Linked DNA regions of Homo sapiens. The protein of the gene in region 3 purifies or fractionates together with the protein of the main gene of each other region. This does not show direct contact. Each region holds a gene or a part of one and is shown on either strand. Other genes may lie near its edges. The genes, in order: EIF5B, NASP, MAPK13, AHCY, PLS3, NAP1L4 and ARF3.

Region 1 (3,500 bases), on a different chromosome or scaffold from region 3:
GGTCTTCGTTAGGCACATATGTAGGCTACTGGGGGATCACATAGGCATCAGACCGTATTATCACCCTCCTTTTCTCCACCACGTTCCCAAACCATTGATCCAAAAGGCCACTACATAACTACCCTGCTTATTGAGCACACGCTTAAAATGCTTTAAAAGTTTCCAGCAGTCTTGTTAAGTAGAATTCTTCTCACTTCAGGTTTCATGATCTAAAGTGAGCATATACCAGTCTAAATCCTAATATTTACTAGTAAGCTCCACTTAAAAATGTATCCCAAACTACGCCATCACTCCTATCATCACTGTGGTCTGAATCACCTAGACCTCTTGCTTGGACTGTGGGAGCCTCCTGACAGGCTCTTGCCACTGACTTCCTAACAACCCAAGGTCCACATAACAACCCAATTAACCAGTCTGATTGTGAACACACAGCCTTGGCAATGGCTTCTTGCAAAACTCAGAGAAGCTCAATCCCTCCCATGGCCTGTAAGATCCTTGACGATACAGGTCCTGCCACCCTCTCTGACCTCATTTATCACTGTCCCTTCTGGTCACTCTGCCTCGCACTGCTGTTCTCTCTGGACACTCCCCATGTGCCTGTGTGGCTTACTCTGTCTGAAGAGGTGAGATGCCTTCCCAAACCACATCATTAATCACAGTCCCTCCTCTCCTTATCTAGGCCCTTCCCTGCTTTATTTGGTTTTTCAGCACTTCTCAACATGTGTCAATTGTCCTGCAATAAGAGCATGTCCCAGACCAGGCACAGTGGCTTACACCTATAATCCCAGCACTTTGGGAGGCAGAGGCAGGTGGATCACTTGAGCTCAGGAGTTCAAGACCAGCCTGGCCAACATGGCGAAACCCTATCTCTACCAAAAATACAAAAAATTAGCCAGGCATAGTGGTGTGAGCCTGTAGTCTCAACTACTCGGGAGGCCAAGGTGGGAGGATCACTTGAGCCCAGTAGGCAGAGGTTGGGGTGACCCATGATCATGCCACTGTACTGCAGCATGGGTGACAGAACGAGACCCTGTCTCAAAGGGAAAGGAGGAGGGAGGCTGGCCTGGTTCTCTGCTGATGCCTCCTCTACCACTGCAGCAATGTAGGTACTGTGAGTGCTTGAGTGAAAGTTTGGTAGAGGAATGGACTTCTCTCCCACAGAATCTCTTATTTCCCGGTTTTCCTCACTCAAGTTTTGTTACTTCCAATCTATATAATCCCAGATGAGCAACATAAAGTCCCTACATTTAATAACTACGAACCCATTAACAAGACCCAAGTCTGCCAAGATTATTAAACTGAAGTCACAGACAAGACTTGTTTGCATACTGCTGGAATGTCCCCAGTATGTTGGGTTTCTGGTTTGTAACACACCATTTCAGGATGCAGCCTCTGGTAGATGAGTAAATGCCATGATTTTGCTGTTTACAGCCCTTTCTGGAATTCAGTAATTCTCAATCATGTTCATTAACAAAGACTCAAAGTAAATAAAAACAGTAACTTACTTAAATTCTTCTTGTTTCTGTTTCTTGTAGTCTTGTCTATATTTTGTAAAGGCATCAAATAAATGATAAATAATTTCTGCACTAAAAATTCTAACTCCTAAACTATCAGCCATTTCTTGTGCATCTCGTTCAATTCTCACATCGAAGGCCAAAATTACTGCATACCTAAAAGGTTAAAACACATCAAAGACCATTCAGTGAAAAACAGAGTATGTCACAGAGGACAGTTTTTTAAGATAGGACAGTTTTAAGATAGCTACGTAACATGAAAGCCTTCATAGCAAGAGAAATTACTTACTGAGGGTCATGTTCCAACATCACTGAAGCCTTCATAACATCTTTTTTATGCACTGGGCCAATGTTAATTCCTGCATACTGAAAAAATGGGAGTTTCCATGTTTATCTGTATGTATCAGGTAATGGCGATGGCACCAAAAACCACGACCAACCACCATTCACTTGTGGAGCGAGTTGTAGTTACTTACGGGCACTTCTGATGTTTTCAGAAATTCCAGTAGAGCTTCCAAAGAACCCAGTGTAGATGCCTGGACATAGACTCCTTTTTCTTCTAATTTGATAGCATTTAGTGTCTGCTTTAACTCATGGATCAATTCATCCTTGAAAAGAAATCAGATTTGATAAGGTTGTCAACACACCTCTATCCTCAGCAGTCTAGAATTAAATTGTGTTTCTCTCTTTGGTTAAGTACTCATCTGCAAATATGAAACTAAGGCTTAGATAGAGCAAGGCATCACAGAACCTGTGCTGGAATGAAGGAGGAGATTTCGGGGCCATACCCTAACTGTATTTCGCTTCACCTTTGTCTTAGGTTTACTAACTTTGAAATATGTTTAATCTCCGCTCCACTTGGCAAATACAGTAGATGGGTGGGCAGAATTAAACAGTAGAGAAGAAAAATTTTTTTAAAGTTAAAAAAGTACCACATAAACGTAATGTGTTATGATAGCCCAAAAGTTCAGCTTGTCTGTGTTAACTAGGAAATACCATAATCTCATGATCTCAGCAGCTCCTTCCTCCATCACTGCTTGTCGGGAAATGGAAGAAGAGATTTTTAACCAGAAATAAGTAAAACAAGTTTATCAATGCCACTGAAGGGACGTAAGTCCACTCCATACTCAGGACTGGGTGAAGAGACAGGCCTGCCCTATTCTCTCACTGGCCCTAAGATAGCTTATTCCCAACAGCATGACTTGATGCTGCCTAAATAATAAACACGGCCCCAGGACACAAGAGCCATGTGCTGGGAACAGTTGTATTTTCTCTTTGGCAAATGAACAAACTATGGCTCAAAGTCCACTTTTATGAAACTACAATGGACATGGGCCAAAAAGAATATACAATTTCTAGCTTTTTTTTTTTTAGACAGGGTCCTGCTGTCACCCAGGTTGGAGTGCAGTGGCACGATCTTGGCTCACTGCAGCCTCTGCCTCCCAGGTTCAAGTGATTCTCCTGCCTCAGCCTCCCAAGTAGCTGGGACTACAGGTGTGCATTCACCATGCCCAGCCGACTTCTAGCTTTTGACTCATTTTTTTATTTGAATAAAATGCATTATTTTTATAATTCTAGTACATATAAAAATTATACCAATTTCTATGATTGTACAAACTGAAGTAATTCAAAAGCATCAAGTTTGCTAAGAGGCCAAGAAATGGCAGGCTTCACAAAGACAAAGCCAGTTTTGGTCACCATCCCTAGCATGTGCAATGCTGACACATGCCAGAACTCAAATAGCTTTTAAGGAAAAAAATTTTTAAATGAACTTACTTTAAGAACAGGGATTTCATCTTCTTTATAAGCCACAAGGAGGGGTAAACCAGCCAATGTTTTCTCCAGGTCTTTTCCAAGAATCTTTACCCCCTGAGCTGCTTCTACTTCTTTATGCTTTTCATACTGGTTCTACAGAGATAAAAACATTTGTTACCAAATGTACTTTAAAAGTGGTTAGCAGTAGAAGATGATATAAGAGAATCTCAT
Region 2 (2,176 bases), on a different chromosome or scaffold from region 3:
CCAGTCCTGCCTTAACCTGCAGGAACAGTACCTGGAAGCCCACGACCGTCTCCTTGCAGAGACCCACTACCAGCTGGGCTTGGCTTATGGGTACAACTCTCAGTATGATGAGGCAGTGGCACAGTTCAGCAAATCTATTGAAGTCATTGAGAACAGAATGGGTGAGTGAAGACGAGCTGCTTCATGGTGATGTTGGATCCAGCAATTAACAAGGAAGAAAACAGTTCTTTTTTGAGCCATTACTAATCACTTTATTCTTTTTAGCTGTACTAAACGAGCAGGTGAAGGAGGCTGAAGGATCGTCTGCTGAATACAAGAAAGAAATTGAGGAACTAAAGGAACTGCTACCCGAAATTAGAGAGAAGATAGAAGATGCAAAGGAGTCTCAGCGTAGTGGGAATGTAGCTGAACTGGCTCTGAAAGCTACTCTGGTTGGTTCCGTTAACATTTTGATAATAGCATGTTTGGTACCATTTATGTTAATGTTCTATTTGCCAGGAACTTTTCATCATGACTTGGTTTCCAGGGAGTTGGTGGGCTCATCTAATTATTCCTATCAAGTAATGCAGTGGTTAAGAGGAAATACCCTGGAGCCCCAGACTATCTGGGTTTTAATTCCATACTTACGTGTGGCCATGGGCCTTTCTCTCCCTCAGTTGACCGATTTGTAAAATGGGGATAATACAGGTTGAGTATCCTTACCTGAATGCTTGAGACCAGAAGTGTTTTGCATTTCAAATGCTTTTGGATTTTGGAATATTTGCATCATACTCAACAGTTGGATACCCTTAATCTAAAATCTGAAATGCTCCAGAGAGCATTTCCTTTGAGTGTCAGTCAGTCCTCAAAAAGTTTCAGATTGTTGGATTAAGGGATGGGATGCCCGACCTGTAGTACATATGTGTAAAATATACTTCTGACAGTACTGGAAAAATAGACATTTCTTAAAAAATGTAAGTTGCTATTTCCATCTCCAAGAACTCATTTGCATAAATTAATGAGGCATTGAGAGGCATTCACCACAAATTGCCTGGTTCTGTTTTTGGCACAGACCTTTTTACCCTGCAGGTAGGATATAGAAGATTTAGTTTATTATGTACACTCTATGTATAGACTATGCTCTGGGTGGCTGCTAGACAGGCATAGGTGGGCCAGGGGTAGAACTGGATACTATATGGAGGCCACTAGCATTTCAGGTCTTAGTCAGTTGTTTGGATGGTGATGGGTTCCTGTTACAAGGCTGTGGGCGGCCTGGGTTCTATCTTCAAACTAATTTGGATTTGTCATTTCTCGCAGGTGGAGAGTTCTACTTCAGGTTTCACTCCTGGTGGAGGAGGCTCTTCAGTCTCCATGGTGCGTATTCAGGTGGTTTTTTGGTCACTTACATTAAGTCTCAGTGTTGGCTCATGCCTGTAATCCCAGCATTTTGGGAGGCCAAGGCAGGAAGATTGCCTGAGGCTTGGAATTCAACACTAGCTTGGGCAACATAGTGAGACCTTGTCTCTGAAAAACTAAAAAATTATAAAAGCCTCAGCATTGATCTCATATAGCTTGTACAATTGCTAATAAGGGCTTATTTTGCCAGATTGCCAGTAGAAAGCCAACAGACGGTGCTTCCTCATCAAATTGTGTGACTGATATTTCCCACCTTGTCAGAAAGAAGGTAAGTCTACATGTGGTGTTTCTTTTCTACCGTTTCCTCAGACTCCATTTTTAATCCCTTTCCTATAAACCCCTCCCTATAGTTGGTGCATATAAGACACTTATTTTCCAAAGGTGGTAAGGATTTGTGAGTGGAGACTGTTGTGTTTTGTTTTGTTTTGAGACGGAGTCTTGCTCTGTCACCCAGGCTGGAGTGCAGTGGCGCAGTCTCGGCTCACTGAAACCTCTGCCCCCCGGGTTCAAGTGATTCTCCTGCCTCAGCTTCCCAAGTAGCTGGGATTACAGGCGCCCGCCACCACGCCTGGCTAGTTTTTGTATTTTTAGTAGAGACTGGGTTTTGCCATACTGACCAGGCTGGTCTTGAACTGCTGACCTCGTGATCCACCCACCTCGGCATCCCAAAGTGCTGGGATTATAAGCGTGAGCCACTGCCCTCAGCCAGGGAACTCTGAACTCCTGTTCTGTTTCCTGACTCAAACACAGGAATTCAAACTTGTACAGTGATTACCATTCA
Region 3 (3,500 bases):
GTGAGGTGGCAGAGGTGGAGGAATGGGCAGGTTCCTGCTTGAAATACACGGTAGAGGAAGAACAGATCTTGGGGGAAAGATAACGAACTCCATTTTGGACACTTTACTTTTAAAGAAACTGTGAACATTCCAATGTTTAATCACAGTTGCAAATAAATATGAACCTCAGGAGACGAAGGTCTGGGCTAGGGATGTGGATTTGTGCTGGAATAATCACCGATGGGTTATAGCTGACACCCGGGAACAGATAATTGTAGAATGTGGTAAGATAGTATTGATTCAGATATCAACATGAAAGAGAAGATCCAAGAGGATGAGCAGATGGAAGAAGCTGAGAGGGCCTGATAGGAGGCAGAGGAGAGTCAGCAAAGAATTGAGAGGGAGTTTCAGACTTGGTGAAAGGTTAGATCAGAAGAAAAGGGAGTCATGGTGTGTTTGTCGGGTGTTCACTGGTGACCTTGAGCTGAGCAGTCTGGCAGTAGGAGGGAAGCAGAAACCAGGTTAACTCAGGACTGGGAGGTAAGGCAGTGGGATCCAGGAGTGTGGACCGCCCTTTCTAGAAGTTTGGTGGTGAGAGAGGGAGAAGGGGTGGTCAGTTGAAGAAGCAAAGTCAAGGGAATGTGGTTCTAGCACAGAGAGGCTTCAGGAAGCATGTTGCCAAGATGAAAGAACCAGTGCCCGAGTGGAGGGGAAAGACACAGGAGGGGACTGGGCATGGAGAGGCCCCCAAGGGAGGTGTGTGGTCCGGCAGGAGAGGGCTGCCAAAATCCAGAGTCTCCTGGAGATGCCTCCAGCATGTCCTTTCAAAAACAACAACAACAACAACAACAAAAAACACAACCTATTACATAATTGTTTAAGGTAACATTCATTTTAAAAAAGTTTTAAATTTATTATATTCTAGAGATAGGGCTGGGTTGCCCAGACTGGAGTGCAGTGGCACAAACACAGTTCACTGCAGCCTCCAACTCCTAGGCTCAAGCCATCCTCCCGCCTCAGCCCCCCAAGTAGGTGGGACTACAGATGCATGCCACCATGTCCAGCTTTTTGTTTTGTTTTAATTTTTATAGATATGGGGTCTCACTATGTTACTCATCCTGATCTCGAATTCCCGGCCTCAAGTGATCCTCCCACCTCAGCCTCTTGAGTAGCTAAGACTAAAGGTGCATGCCACCACACCTGGCTAATTTTTTTTTTTTTTTCTGAAAGGTGGGGTCCAGGCCGGGCATGGTGGCTCACGCCTGTAATCCCAGCACTTTGGGAAGCCGAGGCAGGCAGATCACCTGAGGTCAGGAGTTCGAGACCAGCCTGGCCAACATGGCAAAACCCCGTCTCTACTAAGAATACAAAAATTAGCTGGGCGTTCTGGCGTGCACCTGTAGTTGTAGCTACTCAGGGAAGCTGAGGCAGGAAAATCGCTTGAACCTGGGAGGTGGAGGTTGCAGTGAGCCAAGATCACGCCACTGCACTCTAGCCTGGGCGACAGAGCAAGACTCCATCTCAAAGAAAAAAAGAAAGGAAGAAAGAAAGATGGGTCCCTATGTTGCTCAGGCTGGTCTTAAACTCTTCGCCTCAAGCGATCGTCCAGCCTCCATCTCCCAAAGCACTGGGATTGGAGGTATGCCCCTGGCCTATTTTATAATTTTTATTATTTTTTGTCTTTGTCCTGGTCTTTGCTTTTACTGTAACAGTTACATTTTGCTGGCCTTATCCTGTTGTGCAATCCCCTAAGAGGCTGCAGGAGCCTCCCCATCTCCCTCTTCCACCCTCCTGGAAACTGTTGTATTGTTTCCTTCTTGGAAAGGTAGACATATTGTTTGTTTGTGGAGCCATCTCAGCTGGGCATGACCCTCTGAGGGATCAAATATTTGGACAGAAGCCGAAGGAAATACTGGCAGATGTTTCTAACTCCTAGCTGTGGCTTTCCCTGGGGTGTGGAGGAGGGCAAGGAGAGAGTACCTTTGAAGAGCGGGAACACAGTTCCATGTGGCTTTCCTGAGCGCGCTCCAACTGCAGCGCTTACTCCGAGCTCTGCCAGCTGGGCGGCCCGCCACAGGGAGACTGGGAGCCAGGAGCCCAGAGGCCCGTGTGGTGATCTGGCTGGCTGAGGTGGAGTTGAGTTTTTGCACACTGGAGGGTGTCTCTATGACCCCTGTTCTGCCCTGAGGTCCCTCCTCTGAGCTCTGACCTGGGGCTGGGTGGGACCCGGCACTGTTCCAAGAACCCCTCATGCCTTCCAGCTACCTGGTGATGCCCTTCATGCAGACGGATCTGCAGAAGATCATGGGGATGGAGTTCAGTGAGGAGAAGATCCAGTACCTGGTGTATCAGATGCTCAAAGGCCTTAAGGTGGGTGGGGACTTGGAGGCTGGCAGAGGGGACGCCTTGCTGTCTAGACCTGAGGTTTGGGGAGGCTGGAGGGAGCGCACTGTTACAGGTCGGCCAGCCTGAAGTGCCTGGTGTGGAAGCTGGGCCATGGACTCACCCTTCTCTCTCTCCCACATAGTACATCCACTCTGCTGGGGTCGTGCACAGGGTGAGTGCTTTCTCTGCCATGGTCCTCAGAGGCCCCTGTCCCATCCCTGGGTATGGGGTTCTCTGGCAATCAAGGAGTGGGAAAGTTGGAGGGAGGGGACACTGCCCAGGAGCACAGAATGTGGAGTTTTCACACCCAGCCACGGCCCAGGAAGGCCTGCTCAAAAGAGTCACTGTGTCCCAGGGGACTTCATGGGGAATTGCTGCAGACAAAGTGAGCCCTGAGCTGAGTGTTTCAGGCTTCAAGAATCAGGAACATTTTAGAGCTGGGTGGGCCCTGAGAGAACACCTAGTCCAACCCTCATTTTACACATGAAGAAACTGAGGCCCAGAAGGGGAAGGGGCCTGGCTGAGGTCACACCCCTGGGTGGTGGTGGAGCTAGGACAAGCTCCATCTCTGCCTCAGCCTAGCATGCATTCTCTGTCCTCCCCCCAGGACCTGAAGCCAGGCAACCTGGCTGTGAATGAGGACTGTGAACTGAAGGTGAGTGGGCTGCAGGCTCAGCCCAGAGGCGGGATAGGCCCTCCCCCAGGGAAGCCCCTGGAAGCCGCTCCCAGAGCCTCCTCCCCTCAGCAAGTTCCTTTTCTATTTATCCCCTGTGCCATAGATTCTGGATTTTGGGCTGGCGCGACATGCAGACGCCGAGATGACTGGCTACGTGGTGACCCGCTGGTACCGAGCCCCCGAGGTGATCCTCAGCTGGATGCACTACAACCAGACAGGTCAGTGGTCAATGCCTGAGAGGGCGGTCCTGGGGCCATCTGGTCACTCGGTGCTGACTGACTGCTGGGCCCCAGACAGTCCAGGTGACACTCTCCCTCCCTCTGCAGTGGACATCTGGTCTGTGGGCTGTATCATGGCAGAGATGCTGACAGGGAAAACTCTGTTCAAGGGGAAAGATTGTATCCTTTGCTGGAAAAGCCAAACTCCATCTAGGGATTCCTTCCTTCAACAGACACTTTAT
Region 4 (3,500 bases), on a different chromosome or scaffold from region 3:
TAAAATTGTCTGTCAGTCAGCTTCCTACAGTGCATTTTAACAATTTCAGAGATGAAACACGCCTCCCGCATGAGAGACCACTCCGGCTGTGCCTCAACTCAAGCCACCCACCCCAGCCCTCCTACCCTAGTAGGCCATCACCAGTGATAGCTCTCCTTGGAAATCTGGACTTCAAGCACCCAACTCTAGCCACGCCTCATCTTTCTGGTTTTCTCCTTCCAGAGGCCAAGCTCCAACAAGGCTGTGGCCTGTCAGGTGAGAACCTCTATTCAATTCATCCTACCAATTTCTAGTGTCCCTTCTACCCCCTTTCCCTTTGAGAACTCACTTGGCAAAACTCTCAGCCCAATTAAACCCGACCCTCCACTGCACCGGACCCACTGAACCCAGCAGGAGGACAATCACAACCCCACCAAGACATCATATTTAATTAATTAATTAATTAATTATTTTAGAGACATAGTCTGGCTCTGTAGACCAGGCTGGGGTGCAGTGGCGCGATCTCGGCCCACTGCAACCTCCACCTCTCAGGTCCCGGTTCAAGCAATTCTCCTGCCTCAGCCTCCCCAATAGCTGGGATTACAGGAACTCGCCACCATGCCCAGCTAATTTTTGTATTTTTAGAGGAGACGGGGTTTCACCATGTTGGCCAGGCTGATCTTGAACTCCTGGCCTCGTGATCCACCTGCTTCAGCCTCCCAAAGTGCTGGGATTACAGGTGTGAGCCACCACACCTGGCCAAGATATCATATTTATTAAGACCATAAAAGACACATAGCACATTGCAGCAATCCTATGACATTTTCCTAGTAAATTTACTCCCATTTTCTACTCTCCTCAACCCTCCAACACCTTTCCCCATTGAATGACAATCTCACTTCCCAATTCACTGAGATGAATTCAGAACCAGGCCACTTTTCCCCTATGGAATCCACTAGTCACCTATAGCAGTCATCTACAGCTTCAGACCAGGCACTCTTTCCTGTTACCACAGATGAGTTGAATGGGCGCGGTGGCTCACACCTGTAATCCCAACACTTTGGGAGGCCAAGGTGGGCAGATCACTTGAGGTCAGGAGTTCAAGACCAGCCTGACCAACATGGTGAAACCCCGTCTCTACTAAAAATACAAAAATTAGCCGGGTGTGGTGGTGGGTGCCTGTAATCCCAGCTACTCAGGAGGCTGAGGCAGGAGAATCACTTGAACCTGGGAGGCAGAGGCTGCAATGAGCTGAGATCATGCCACTGCACTCCAGCCTGGGTGACAGAGTGAGACTCGGTCTCAAAAAAATAAAATAAAATAGATGAGCTGTCCTGTGGGCGGCAAGCCACCCAGGCACCGAGGCAAGAGACAGAGGACACGAGCTGTTCCAGTATAATAAAATATAAAACAAGAATAGTTATACTAGATATAGATCTTATATATGATTATATATGAATATCATTAATCATTAGTTTGTAGCAATTACTTTTTATTCCAATATTATGATAATCCTTGCTCTATAATCATAGCCTAGGAAAAACCAGGCCATACAGAGATAGGAGCTGAGGGGACATAGTGAGGTGTGACCAGAAGACAAGAGTGCGAGCCTTCTGTTATGCCCGGACAGGGCCACCAGAGGGCTCCTTGGTCTAGCGGTGACGCCAGCGTCTGGGAAGACGCCCGTTACCAGGCGGATCGTGGTCCAGCGGTAGCAAAAGGTGTCAAGGAACAACACCCGCTACTTAGCAGACTGGGAAGTGGCGGCGGCGGGAGGGGGGGGGGTGTCTCCCTTTCCCCAGGGGAGTTTAGAAAAGACTCTGCTCCTCCACCTCTTGTAGAGGGCCTGACATCAGCCAGGCTCGCCCACAGTTATCCAGAGGCCTAACCATCTCCCTGTGATGCTGTGCTTCAGTGGTCACACTCCTAGTCTGCCTTCATGTTCCATCCTGTACACCTGGCTATGCCTTCTAGATAGCAGTAGTAAATTAGTAAAAATACTAATAGTCCCTGATATGCAGAAATAATTGCGTAAGCTGTCTTTCTCTCTGTCTCCTCTCCCTCCCTGCCTCGGCTGCCAGGCAGGGAAGGGCCCCCTGTCCAGTGGACACGTGACCCACATGACCTTACCTATCCTTGGAGGTGACTCACATTCTTTACCCTGCCCCTTCTGCCTTATATGCAATAAATAACAGCGCAGCCCAACATTCGGGGCCACTACCGGTCTCCGCGCATTGATGGTAGTGGTCCCCCGGGCCCAGCTGCCTTTTCTCTTGTCTCTTTGTCTTGTATCTTTATTTCTACACTCTCTCGTCGCCGCACACAGGGAGAGACCCACCGACCCTATGGGGCTGGTCACTACACTATCCCTGCTCCATGGGGCCTGATTCCATATCCCCTCTCCTCCTTAAGGACTTCCATACTCCACTAAAACTGCTCTTCCGTCCAAAGACCAGCCTGATCTCCATACCTGATGCAAAATTACCTAAGACCATGTTTCTACCAGCAGCACAGATTGCATGAATGACTTGCCCTCCTTCCTGAAACCCTTTCTTTACTTGGCTTCTGTGACTGTCCTGTGCTTTTCCACCTACCTTCCTGGTTCCTCTTTAGCTAACAGACTTTAGGGTTTGGGGGCCCTCAGGGCTCCATCATCTCCCAGTTCTCTTATGTTTACCAATTAAGCTCATCCAGTCTTATGGCTTTACATACCTTCTCTACGGGGATGACTCCCACGTATTTATATCCAGCCCAAACTACTCCCCTGAACTTGAGACTCGATGTGATCCAACTGCCTCCACAGCACCTCCACTTGGATGTCCAGTTGGATCTATTATGTGTCATGTTGGAGTCCTCATGGCTCCTTTGCCCCCACTACCGGTTACTCTCCCAATCTTCCCATTTTAGGAAATGAAACCACCATTCAACCAGCTACTCTGCCCAAAAACTTAAGATTTGATTCCTCTTTTCCTCTTTCACCTCAATCAGCACGTTTTTGGCTCAACAAGTGAAATATATAAGCAATCCAACTGCATCTCACCACCTTCATCTAAACTGTCACTTCTCAGGCTGGGCGCGGTGGCTCACAGCCTGTAATCCCAGCACTTTGGGAGGCCAAGGTGGGCGGATCACCCGAGGTCAGAAGTTCGAGAGCAGCCTGGCCAACATGGTGAAATCCCATCTCTACTAAAAATACAAAAATTAGTTGGGCGTGGTGGTGGGCACTTATAATCCCACCTACTCAGGAGGCTGAGGCAGGAGAATTGCTTGAACCTGGGAGGCGGAGGTGGCAGTGAGCTAAAATAGCACCACTGCACTCCAACCTGGGTGAGAGGGAGACTCTGTCTCCAAAAAAAACAATAAAGAAATAAATACACTGCCACTTCTCAGTTGGACACTGCCACACTCTCTTCACTGGTCCCATGCTCTAACATGCCATTCTCCCCACAGCAGCCAGAAGAGGGAGGCTCTTAAAAATTTAAGTTACATCACCTCCATCATTCTACTAAAGTAAACAAAAC
Region 5 (3,500 bases), on a different chromosome or scaffold from region 3:
TGGAGTTCTCCTTAACTGCCTCAATTCTGTGTGACATCCAGATGTTGGTACACAGGGAATAAACTTAAGGATCTTCATCAGATGTCACTGACCAGCAAGGCTGTGAAAACAATACTATGTGATGATATGATTTTGTTCAGTGATGAGAGGAAGCAGTGAGTTGCCTGTACTACTGATTTCATCCATGAAAATTAAGAGTAGCCCCAAAATTATAAGACCAACTGACCCTGCCCTCTCTTTTAATTACACAATATGTTTGGCCAGGTTTGTTGTTGTTGCTGTTGTTGTTGTGACAGGGTCTCACTTCGTCACCCAGGCTGGAGTGCAGTGCTGCTAACATGGCTCACTGCAGCCTTTACCTCCCAAGCTCAAGCAATCTTCCCACTTCAGCCTCCCAAGTAGCTGGGACTACAGGTGCACACCACCAAGCCCGATTGATTTTTTTTTCTTTTTCTGAGATGGAGTCTCCCTCTGTCACTCAGGCTGGAGTGCAGTGGCACTATCTCGGCTCACTGCAACCTCCGCCTCCCAGGTTCAAGAGATTCTTCTGCCTCAGCCTCCTGAGTAGCTGGAATTACAGGCATCCACCACCACGCCTGGTTAATTTTTGTATTTTTAGGAGAGACAGGGTTTCACCATCTTGGTCAGACTGGTCTCAAACTCCTGACCTCATGATCTGCCCACCTCGGCTTCCCAAAGTGCTGGGATTACAGGCATGAGCCACTGTGCCCGGCCTGATTTTTTTATTATTTGTAGAGATGGGGTCTCACTGTGTTGCCCAGGCTGGACTCAAGCTCCTGGGCTCAAGTGATCCTCCCACCTCGGCCTCCTAAAATGCTGGGATTACAGGCATGAGCCATGGTACCTGGCCAGCCAGGTATATTTTGCTTCATGCACTAGATGCGTTCCTGAAAATCAGCAAGCCAACCATAAATGGATTTTATGTAGTGGGATATATTTTAAATGTAAAGAGAAAATCTTATTTTTGTAAATGAAGCCTGCTTTGAATTTTTTTATTTTTTATTTTTTAAATTATTTTTTGTTTATTTTTTTTTTTGAGATGGAGTCTTGCTCTGTCGCCCAGGCTGGAGTGCAGTGGCGCCATCTCGGCTCACTGCAAGCTCCACCTCCCAGGTTCACGCCATTCTCCTGCCTCAGCCTCCTGAGTAGCTAGGACTACAGGCACCCGCCACCATGCCTGGCTAATTTTTTTTGTATTTTTAGTAGACATGGGGTTTCACCGTGTTAGCCAGGATGGTCTCGATCTCCTGACCTCGTGATCTGCCTACCTCGGCCTCCCAAAGTGCTGGGATTACAGGCATGAGTCACCGCCCCCGGCCATCAATATTTTTAAAAAGGAAATAATTGTTTGGTAATGTGAAAACTAACTTCCAGTTTATCTGTATTCAAGTTCAAATTTTCACCTGTAAAGCCCTTTTCAGGGTAGTAAATACAGATTTTGCTGGGTCTGCTCTTTACTTGTTCTTCTCAAGAGCATAGGTTTATTATAAATTGTTTGTGTAGCTTTAGCAAGTAATTGGAAGTGAAAGCACTTTCGCAATTGTAGTACACTATTCCTTAAGAGGTAAATGCTATGCCCCCAAATGATAGAATCGGAGTTGGCATTTTATGAATTGCTCTGAAATAGCTTTCAATTACCTGATTTTCCCCATTCTTAGAATCATTTATGGCACCAAGTTTCAAACTCACCTGGGTAACTGGTTTAAAAGGCACCTTTCTGGGCAGCTCCCAGACATTTATATTTGGTAGCTCAGGAATTGGATTCAGTAATTCACATATTGAGTAACTTCCTCAGGGGTTAGTATGCACATAGACTATGAGAAACACTCCTTCATAGCCTGTCTGGACCTTCAAAGCCCAGTAACAGGAAACTATTAATATCGTAGCTGGAAGGTGGTCTTCACATATGGCAGGATTAAGGAATCTTGACTCAAATTCCGGTCCTCTAGCATTCCAAAGATGCAGGAATTTACTTGACACGTGTGTAAAGGTTCTTAATAAGCGTTTGTGCAAGTACAATAGTTTTCAAGCTGTGTTTTGTGGAGTTGTCCACACAACCTGAATTCATGTTGACTGTGAGCCAACCCCATTGTTTTATGTATTGGGATTCTAAGAAAACAACATTCAAGTGATTTAGTCCAGGGGTTTAAAACGAAAAGAGACCTTTGTTTTGTTAAGTACATTCAGATCATAGAGGGTTCAGTGTTATTTTAGCAACTAAAATGTTTACCATTTAATGCTTTTGTCATTTAAATTTACAATTAAATACATCTTTAACATAGCTAATCTCTTCTTCGTAGGTTGTGGTATATGCATTGTGCTTTGTAATGATATAACCTGTTTATTTTCTCTTTCTTCTATGCTTCCTGGATTTCTGCTCTCCTACTTTTTTAAATGCTTGTTTTGTCTGTCAAGCTTATTGACTTCAGTAATTCAGTGAAGGTACAGAACTGGTTATATGTTTATTAGCATTATTGTATTGATGACTTTAATAATTGCGAAGTCATGTCAAAATCCAGTTCATCCATATGCAAGACAGATATAAGGCAGATAGATGGACTTTTCTGGGGAAAACACCTGTTAAATTAAAAGGCAGAGATTTGTGCCATTTATTCTCAAAAAATCCAATGCAAATAGCCTTCCAAACATGGGACAATAGGATACATTCATTCCTTGTAACTGTGATCTCACTGACATTTTCAATTCTTTGTAGGATTCCAAAGCCTATTTCCATCTTCTCAATCAAATCGCACCAAAAGGACAAAAGGAAGGTGAACCACGGATAGATATTAACATGTCAGGTTTCAATGTAAGTATAAGTGCTCTTTTGAATTCTACAATCTTGCAAAATTATTGTCAATTTCTTATAAGTACAATAATTTTTATAATCGTATGAAGTAGAGTTGGCAATTTTAAGCATTATTTTAAAATGTATTACTGTACATGTAATTCAGAGGCCAGAAAACTAGCTTTGATTTATTTTGATTGTTAGTGAATTCCATCGTTGTTGTGGTATTGATTTATATGGATGGCATAAAATATTCAAAACAAGTATGGGGAAATAAGTAACTAGAAGCTAACCTTTTCCAAGTATTTGGATTACAACCACAGTAATAGATTTAGTGACTATATGAAAACCTTTTCCAAGTATTTGGATTATAACCACAGTAATAGATTTAGTGACTATATATTCATATTCCTGTGTTGAGAGTAATGTGATTATGTTTTACAAACTCCCAATCTATGAAATCTAATTTAGGGAATTACTCTCAGAGACCATGTTCCCTGGTTATGTCACTAATTTGTTTAGTGACATTGGACAAGTTCCTTCTCAAAATTGGATTTCACTTTGTTCATCCATAAAGTAAGGAGTTAGAGTGAACTATTTAGTCCCAAGTTTCTAGGAATCTGTGGTTTTTGTACCCATTAGATATGGAATGCATGCTACTAATTAACAAAATCCACATATCTAGCCTATT
Region 6 (3,500 bases), on a different chromosome or scaffold from region 3:
TCTGAACTGGCAAGCAAATTTTCACCCAGTTAATTGGGTCGAGGAAAAATAAAATAAAATAATTCCCATGATTACACAAATGTTCTTTTATTTATATTAGTCACTGTAACAATCCTATTTATGGATTAATTTCTTTGTACCCCAAACAACTGTTTTCTTATGAAATTTTTAAAGATTTTTGTAACAAAATATAACCTTAAATTCCTAATTTTGAACTGAAAACATCTACTCCATAGCTAGAGTAACTATAAAATTGGGCCATGGCCAGGCACGGTGGCTCACGCCTGTAATCCCAGCACTTTGGGAGACCAAGGCGGGCGGATCACATGAGGTCGGGAGTTCGAGGTCAGCCTGGCCAACGTGGTGAAATTCCATCTCCATTAAAAATACAAAAATCAGCTGGGCATGGTGGCACACGCCTGAGGTCCCAGCTACTCAGGAGGCTGAGGCAGGAGAACTGCTTGAACCTGGGGGGCGGAGGTTGTAGTGAGCCAAGATTGCCCCACTAGACTCCAGTCTGGGCGACAGAGCCAGACCCTGTCTCAAAAAAAAAAAAAAGAAAAAGAAAGGAAAAAAAAATTGGGCCACGTTTGAGAGACAAAGCTAGAGAGTGTAGTCGTACTCCCCAAAACTTTTATATATTTACTCTGTCTTAATAAACTCAAAGGTCCTCAATGTCTTTATGGGAGATAACTGAAGGATTAAAATTAATTCAAATGTAATTAATGTTTTCACAAGACTCCTTATAATTTCCTTACAAATCCTATATATCCTACAAAATTAGGGATGGTAGTAAATTTTTTTTTTTTTTTTTGAGATAGAGTTTCGCACTTGTTGCCCAGGCTGGCGTGCAGTGGCGCGATCTCGGCTCACTGCAACCTCCACCTCCCAGTTTCTCCTGCCTCAGCCTCCCAAGTAGCTGGAGTTACAGGTGCCCACCACCATGCCCAGCTAATTTTTTTTTTTTTTTGTATTTTTAGTAGAGACAGGGTTTCACCATGTTGGCCAGACTTGGTCTCGAACTCCCAACCTCAGGTGATCCACCTGCCTCAACCTCCCAAAGTGCTGGGATTACAGGTATGAGCCACCGCACTCTAAGATAAATTTCTAAAGCACAATTGCTTGGCCCACATTCAGTCTGAGGAATGGCAATCCAACATTCTCAATCCAAGAGAGTCTGACCAGCCATTGGGCACAAGTTCAAATCCTCCAGGAGTACTGGATGTTTTAGATTAGGACATCAGAAAGGACAAAGAAATGATCTGTTCTCAGAAGGAATCAAGATACCCCTGTAGGACACCCCAACATCCCCACCCACAAAAGCTGGTGATTATACGAAGCCCTGAGACAGTCCAGATTTCATTTCTATTGCCCAGGCCAGTAGACTCCTGATCCAGTCTATCATTACCACTCTCCAGGATCAGAAGTTAATCATGTTGTTAAACTTTCCATGATAATGTTCTGGGTTTTTTGTTGTTGTTGTTGTTTTTTGAGGTGGAGTCTCGCTCTGTCACCCAAGGCGGGAGAGGGTCTCAAACTCCTGACCCTCAGGTGATCTGCCCACCTCAGCTTCCCCCAAAGTGCTGTGATTACAGGCGTGAGCCACCATGCCAGGCCCATGATAATGTTTAAAAGCAATGAATAGGCTGGGCACGGTGGCTCACGCCTGTAATCCCAGCACTTTGAGAGGCCCAGGTGGGCAGACCACCTGAGGTCAGGAGTTCGAGACCAGCCTGACCAATATGGTGAAACCCGTCTCTACTAAAAAGATACAAAAATTACCCAGGCGTGGTGGTGAGCACCTGTAATCCCAGCTACTTGGGAGGCTGAGACAGGAGAATTGCTTGAACCTGGGAGGCAGAGGCTGCAGTGAGCCGAGATCGCGCCACTGCACTCCAGCCTGGGCATCAGAGCGAGACTCCACCTCAAAAAAAAAAAAAAAAAAAAAGCAATGAATAATACATGTTTGCCCACTAAAGAACAAGTTCCACGAGGGCAGGGACCCTGTCTACTTGCTCAATACAGAAGTCCCAAGGCCCAGCAACAGACTCGGGATGAGACTGGTTGCCAAGAAATCTTTGCTTAACTCACTGCTACCAAATGACAACTTGTCTCTGTGTTACCAGTACCCAGCACGCATGGTGCCCGGGACTGCATGCACACATCTCAAGCAGTTTCTGAAGACACAGAGGAGAAACACTGCCTTAGTCATTCATGTTTGGTTACAAGATCTACTGAAATACCTGCCTCCAAACAGCAGCAGACTGTCTCTTCAGAGACTTCTGCGGTGCCAAGCCCTGGGGTTTCAAGAAGAAAGCAAAAAATGATTTCCTTTCCTTAACCAAAACACTACATTTTACTTGGGGCGCAGCAGTCTTTACTGCTGCACTCCCATCTCCTCCACCCTTCTTTTCTGGGCAGTTCATTAGCATACGACTCAATGAGGCTAACTTCTTAATCCAGTACATATTAAAAGATCTTGTCATCTTGTCAATAAGGCACTTCCCTCTCTACCTATTTCATATTGCAACCACCAAAGTCCCTACTCCTCTGCACTGTTTTTCAAAAGCACCTGCCACCATTGAACTTGTTCGTCTGTCTCCCATAGCAGAAACAAGGACAAAGACTTCTGTTTTATTCTGCGGGAGGCCCCAGTACCTAGAACTGTGCCCAGTACATAGAAGATGCTCATGAATAAGTAAACAGATGCAAATCACTGAAAGCTACTTTTCGGTAACTGAGTAAACAAGTACTATTTTAATTATTATACTTAAAACCTTTGCACATAAAAGTGCACAGTCATTCTTTCTACCACAAATTAAACAGAAATTATCTCATCTTGTTTTTGAACAGGCTTTTCCAGATAATGCACAGCGCATTTTTAAAAGTCCCAAGGACATGAAATGAACATACATTTCGTTTTTAACAGTTAACAGGGGATACTTGTAAGAAACTTAAGGTTACACAGGAAGTGGTCAAAATCAAAAAGTAAAGATCACAAAGTGATCTTTCGTTGTTTTCATACTATAAAAACACAATGCCTCTGTTACTAAATGCAAAATGTAAAGCTCTGGCAAACAAAGTAAAGCAACCCTGTTCTCTCTTAAGAGGGCAGGGTGGAAAACCAATGACTGCCAGATGAAAACTAATTTATATCACCACAAACTATTTCTTAAAAATTTCATTAGCAGCCAAATACAAAATTATTTACTATCTACCTACTGATAAGGGTTTTCCATTACTATATGCTCAAAGACAAACCTTACAACTATAGTTTCGGGAGGCATAAATTTGCTTACCTCAGGAGGTCCCACAAAAATTCAGCTGAGGCCAGGTAACAGCAGTTTCCTGCAGAGATCAGCTACTTCCTATCACCATAGTGGTCGAAGAATCAAACGAAGTAATATCAGATTTCTACTCTGGAAGCCTAAAACACTTTTCCCTTTAAGCAAAAAAGCAAGCATTCCTTAGCTAGCAATCTCAGGCCAAACTCCCAACAA
Region 7 (3,500 bases), on a different chromosome or scaffold from region 3:
TGGTGAGACCCTGTCTCTACTAAATACAAAAAATTAGCCGGGCGTGGTGGCAGGTGCCTGTAATCGCCCAGCTACTTGAGAGGCTGAGGCAGGAGAATCGGTTGAACCCAGGAGATGGAGGTTGCAGTGAGCCGAGATTGCGCCATTGCACTCTAGCCTGGGCAACAAGAGCAAAAACTCCGTCTCAAAAAAAAAACAAAAAGGCAGACACAGAAGAACACATATTGTACAATTTTACTTCTATGAAGTACCTAGAGTAACAGATTCATAGAGACAGGAGAATGGTGGTTGCCAGGGGCTGGAGGGACAGGGGGATTGGGGATCCTCTGTTTAACAGGTACAGTTTCAGTTTGGGAAGATTAAAAAGTTGAGGTGATGAATAGTTGTGATAGTTACACTACAGTGTGAATGTACTTAACGCTACTGAATTGTATACTTAAAAAAATGGTTAGAATGGTAAATTTTGTGTATATTTTACTATGATTTAAAAAAAAAGAAGCCAGTCGGGTACAGTGGCTCATGCCTGTAATCCCAGAACTTTGGGAAGCCGAGGTGGGCGGATCACTTGAGCCCAGGAGTTTGAGACTAGCCTGGGCAACATGGCGAAACTTCAGTTAAACAAAAATTAGCCAGGCGTGGTGGTGCATGCCTGTAGTCCCAGCTACTCCAGAGGCTGAAGTGGGAGGATTGCTCGAGCCTGGGAGGTGGAGGCTGCAGTGAGCCACTATCACGCCACTGCACTCCAGCTTGGGTGACAGAGCAAGACCCATCTCAGAAAACGAAAGATGCCAGGCGTGGTGGTGCATGCCTATAGTCCCAGTTACTCAGGATTGCGTGAGCCCAAGAATTTGAGGCTGTAGCGCACCATGAGGGCACCTGTGAATAGCCATTGTATTTCATCGTGGGCAACATAGTGGGACCCCATCTCTAAAAAAGAAAAAGTTTAGTTTACCAGCTTGATACTGTAATTAAGGACCCAACTGAGTTTTTCCCATTTTTCTGCTCTGACATCCTGGAGTTTTTAATGTCTGTCTCCCTCTCTTTATGGTCTCCAGATTATTCTAGCTTCTCATCCTTCTACATCATCAACATCCAAAGGCTGGACAAGAGAACATTGCCATAGGTCCTTTTCTAAGATTGAGGGGCCAGGCACAATGGCTCATGCCTGTCATCTCAGTACTTTGGGAGGCTGAGGTGGGAGGACTGCTTGAGGTCAGGAGTTCGAGACCAGCCTGGGTAACATAGCAAGACCTTGTCTCTACAAAAAAACTTTAAAAATTAGCCAGGCATGGTGATGCACACCTGTAGTTCTAGCTACTTGGGAGGTTGAGGTGGGAGGATCTCTTGAGCCCAGGAGATGGAGGCTGCAGTGAGCCATGATCATGCCACTGCACTCTAGTCTGAGTGGTAGAGTGAGACTCTGTTTCTAAAAACAACAGTAATAATAAAAACAAACATGTTCAGGCCAGGTGCAGTGGCTCATGCCTGTAATCCCAGCACTTTGGGAGGCCGAGGTGGGTGGATCATGAGGTCAAGAGATCGAGACCATTCTGGCCAACATGGTGAAACCCCGTCTCTACTAAAAATACAAAAAATTAGCTGGGTGTAGTGGCGGGCGCCTGTAGTCCCAGCTACTCGGGAGGCTGAGGCAGGAGAATGGTGTGAACCCGGGAGGCAGAGCTTGCAGTGAGCCGAGATCGCGCCACTGCACTGCAACCCGGGCGACAGAGCGAGACTCTGTCTCAGACAACAACAACAACAAACAAACAAACATACATATTCACCTTCAGATCTGTTCCTCTTGTATTTTCTTTCTGAAGAAATGCCACCCAGCCCTAGGCCAGAAACCTGGGAATCATCTTTGATTATTCTACTCTTCTGCGTACATTTAAGCACTCATTAAATCCTGTGGATTCTACCATTTTGATGTTTCAAATCTGTCCTCTTCTCTCTATCTCCACTTGTAGTTGACAACTTGCGATTTCTCACCTGTATTACTATACCTCCTAAGCAGTGTCTGTGCCTCCAGTCTTTCCCCTTTCTAATTTACTCCTGAAACTTCTAAAGCACATACCTGATCACGTTACTCAGCATGGCCTTTAAAGCCCTTCATGATCCAGTCCCTGCTTATCTCTCCAGCCCCATCCCTCATCATTTTCTTTCTTTCTTTTTTTTTTGAGACCGAGTCTCACTCTGTCACCTAAGCTGGAGTGCAGTGATGTGATCTTGGCTCACTGCAACCCCTGCTTCCTGGGTTCAAGCAATTCTCCTGCCTCAGCACCCTGAGTAGCTGGGATTGCAGGCCCACACCATCACACCCGGCTAATTTTTCTATTTTTAGTAGAGACGGGGTTTTACCATGTTGGCCAGGCTGATCTTGATCTTCTGACCTTGTGATCCGCCCACCTCGGCCTCCCAAAGTGCTGGGATTACAGGCGTGAGCTACCACACCTTGCCTGTACTCTTCACTTTAGGAGGCTGAGACTGGAGGATCGTTTGAAGTCAGAAGTTCGAGACCAACCTGGTCAACAAAGTGAGACTCTATCTCTACCAAAAATAAAAATAAAAAAGTTAGCTGCGTCACGATGATTTGGGCCCGTAGGTCTTTTTAGCTACTGGGGAAGCTGAGGCAGTAGGATTGTTTGAGCCCAGGATTTGGATGCTGCAGTGAGCCTGGGTGACAGAGTGAGACCTCATCTCTTTAAAAAAAAAAAAAAGATTATATAAATTTTTTTAAAGTGCTATCTGAAACTTAGGTCTTTTTTTCTTTTTCTTTTTTTTGAGACATATTCTCTCACTCTGTCACCTGGGCTGGAGTGCAGTGGCGTGATCATGGCTCACTGCAGCCACAACTTCCTGGGCTCAGGTGATTCTCTTGTCTCAGCCTCCTGAGTAGTTGGGACTACAGGCGTGCACCACCACACCCAGCTTTTTTTTTTTTTTTTGTAGCGATGGGCTTTTGCCATGTTGCCCAGGCTGGCCTTGAACTCCTGGCCTCAGGCAATCTTCTTGCATCAGCCTCCCAAAGTGCTGGGATTACAGGTGTGTCCTGCTGTGCCTGGCTCAGTCTTTATGCCTTTGCACACACTTCCCCTGCCCAACTCCCTCTTTATTGTCTGATTACTTCCTCGTCTTCCTTTAGGAGCCAGCTCAGGTATGACCTGAGAATTAGGTTTCAGAATCACCCTTTACCCTTCAGTGTTGATTTACTGCTCCAGCTTTCTGTTCACATAATACTATGTGCTTTACTCTTACTCTCACACTGTTTTGTAGTCCTGTCTTCACTAGTCTTTTCCATTAAAGACTGAGTTTCATGAAGGCAGAAACTGTCTCCCTCTCTGTATCCCTAGTTCAGTATGCCCAATAAATGTTTGATGAATGAGGCCAGGCACGGTGGCCCACGCCTGTAATCCCAGCACTTTGGGGGGCAGAGGTGGGCAGATCACAAGGTCAGGAGATCAAGACCATCCTGGTTAACATGGTGAAATCCTGTCTCTACT

The links.
Region 1: the proteins of MAPK13 (region 3) and EIF5B purify together in Homo sapiens (co-immunoprecipitation; one large-scale study listed by IntAct). This does not show direct contact.
Region 2: the proteins of MAPK13 (region 3) and NASP purify together in Homo sapiens (co-immunoprecipitation; one large-scale study listed by IntAct). This does not show direct contact.
Region 4: the proteins of MAPK13 (region 3) and AHCY purify together in Homo sapiens (co-immunoprecipitation; one large-scale study listed by IntAct). This does not show direct contact.
Region 5: the proteins of MAPK13 (region 3) and PLS3 purify together in Homo sapiens (co-immunoprecipitation; one large-scale study listed by IntAct). This does not show direct contact.
Region 6: the proteins of MAPK13 (region 3) and NAP1L4 purify together in Homo sapiens (co-immunoprecipitation; one large-scale study listed by IntAct). This does not show direct contact.
Region 7: the proteins of MAPK13 (region 3) and ARF3 purify together in Homo sapiens (co-immunoprecipitation; one large-scale study listed by IntAct). This does not show direct contact.

Annotation. Positions count from the first base shown.
Region 1 is NC_000002.12:99,392,889-99,396,388, reverse strand, and holds part of EIF5B (eukaryotic translation initiation factor 5B), read right to left. Parts: intron 3,423-3,500; coding exon 3,291-3,422; intron 2,123-3,290; coding exon 1,991-2,122; intron 1,881-1,990; coding exon 1,804-1,880; intron 1,671-1,803; coding exon 1,506-1,670; intron 1-1,505. UniProt on the Homo sapiens protein: Plays a role in translation initiation.
Region 2 is NC_000001.11:45,615,041-45,617,216, forward strand, and holds part of NASP (nuclear autoantigenic sperm protein), read left to right. Parts: coding exon 1-161; intron 162-264; coding exon 265-431; intron 432-1,296; coding exon 1,297-1,353; intron 1,354-1,585; coding exon 1,586-1,663; intron 1,664-2,176. UniProt on the Homo sapiens protein: Component of the histone chaperone network. Binds and stabilizes histone H3-H4 not bound to chromatin to maintain a soluble reservoir and modulate degradation by chaperone-mediated autophagy.
Region 3 is NC_000006.12:36,133,513-36,137,012, forward strand, and holds part of MAPK13 (mitogen-activated protein kinase 13), read left to right. Parts: intron 1-2,240; coding exon 2,241-2,349; intron 2,350-2,506; coding exon 2,507-2,536; intron 2,537-2,971; coding exon 2,972-3,019; intron 3,020-3,143; coding exon 3,144-3,258; intron 3,259-3,366; coding exon 3,367-3,438; intron 3,439-3,500. UniProt on the Homo sapiens protein: Serine/threonine kinase which acts as an essential component of the MAP kinase signal transduction pathway.
Region 4 is NC_000020.11:34,296,856-34,300,355, forward strand, and holds part of AHCY (adenosylhomocysteinase), read right to left. Parts: intron 1-3,500. UniProt on the Homo sapiens protein: Catalyzes the hydrolysis of S-adenosyl-L-homocysteine to form adenosine and homocysteine. Binds copper ions.
Region 5 is NC_000023.11:115,637,674-115,641,173, forward strand, and holds part of PLS3 (plastin-3), read left to right. Parts: intron 1-2,436; coding exon of another isoform or gene 2,437-2,463; intron 2,464-2,734; coding exon 2,735-2,830; intron 2,831-3,500. UniProt on the Homo sapiens protein: Actin-bundling protein.
Region 6 is NC_000011.10:2,985,830-2,989,329, forward strand, and holds part of NAP1L4 (nucleosome assembly protein 1-like 4), read right to left. Parts: intron 3,443-3,500; exon of another isoform or gene 3,300-3,442; intron 2,298-3,299; exon of another isoform or gene 2,248-2,297; intron 1-2,247. UniProt on the Homo sapiens protein: Acts as a histone chaperone in nucleosome assembly.
Region 7 is NC_000012.12:48,947,488-48,950,987, reverse strand, and holds part of ARF3 (ADP-ribosylation factor 3), read left to right. Parts: intron 1-3,500.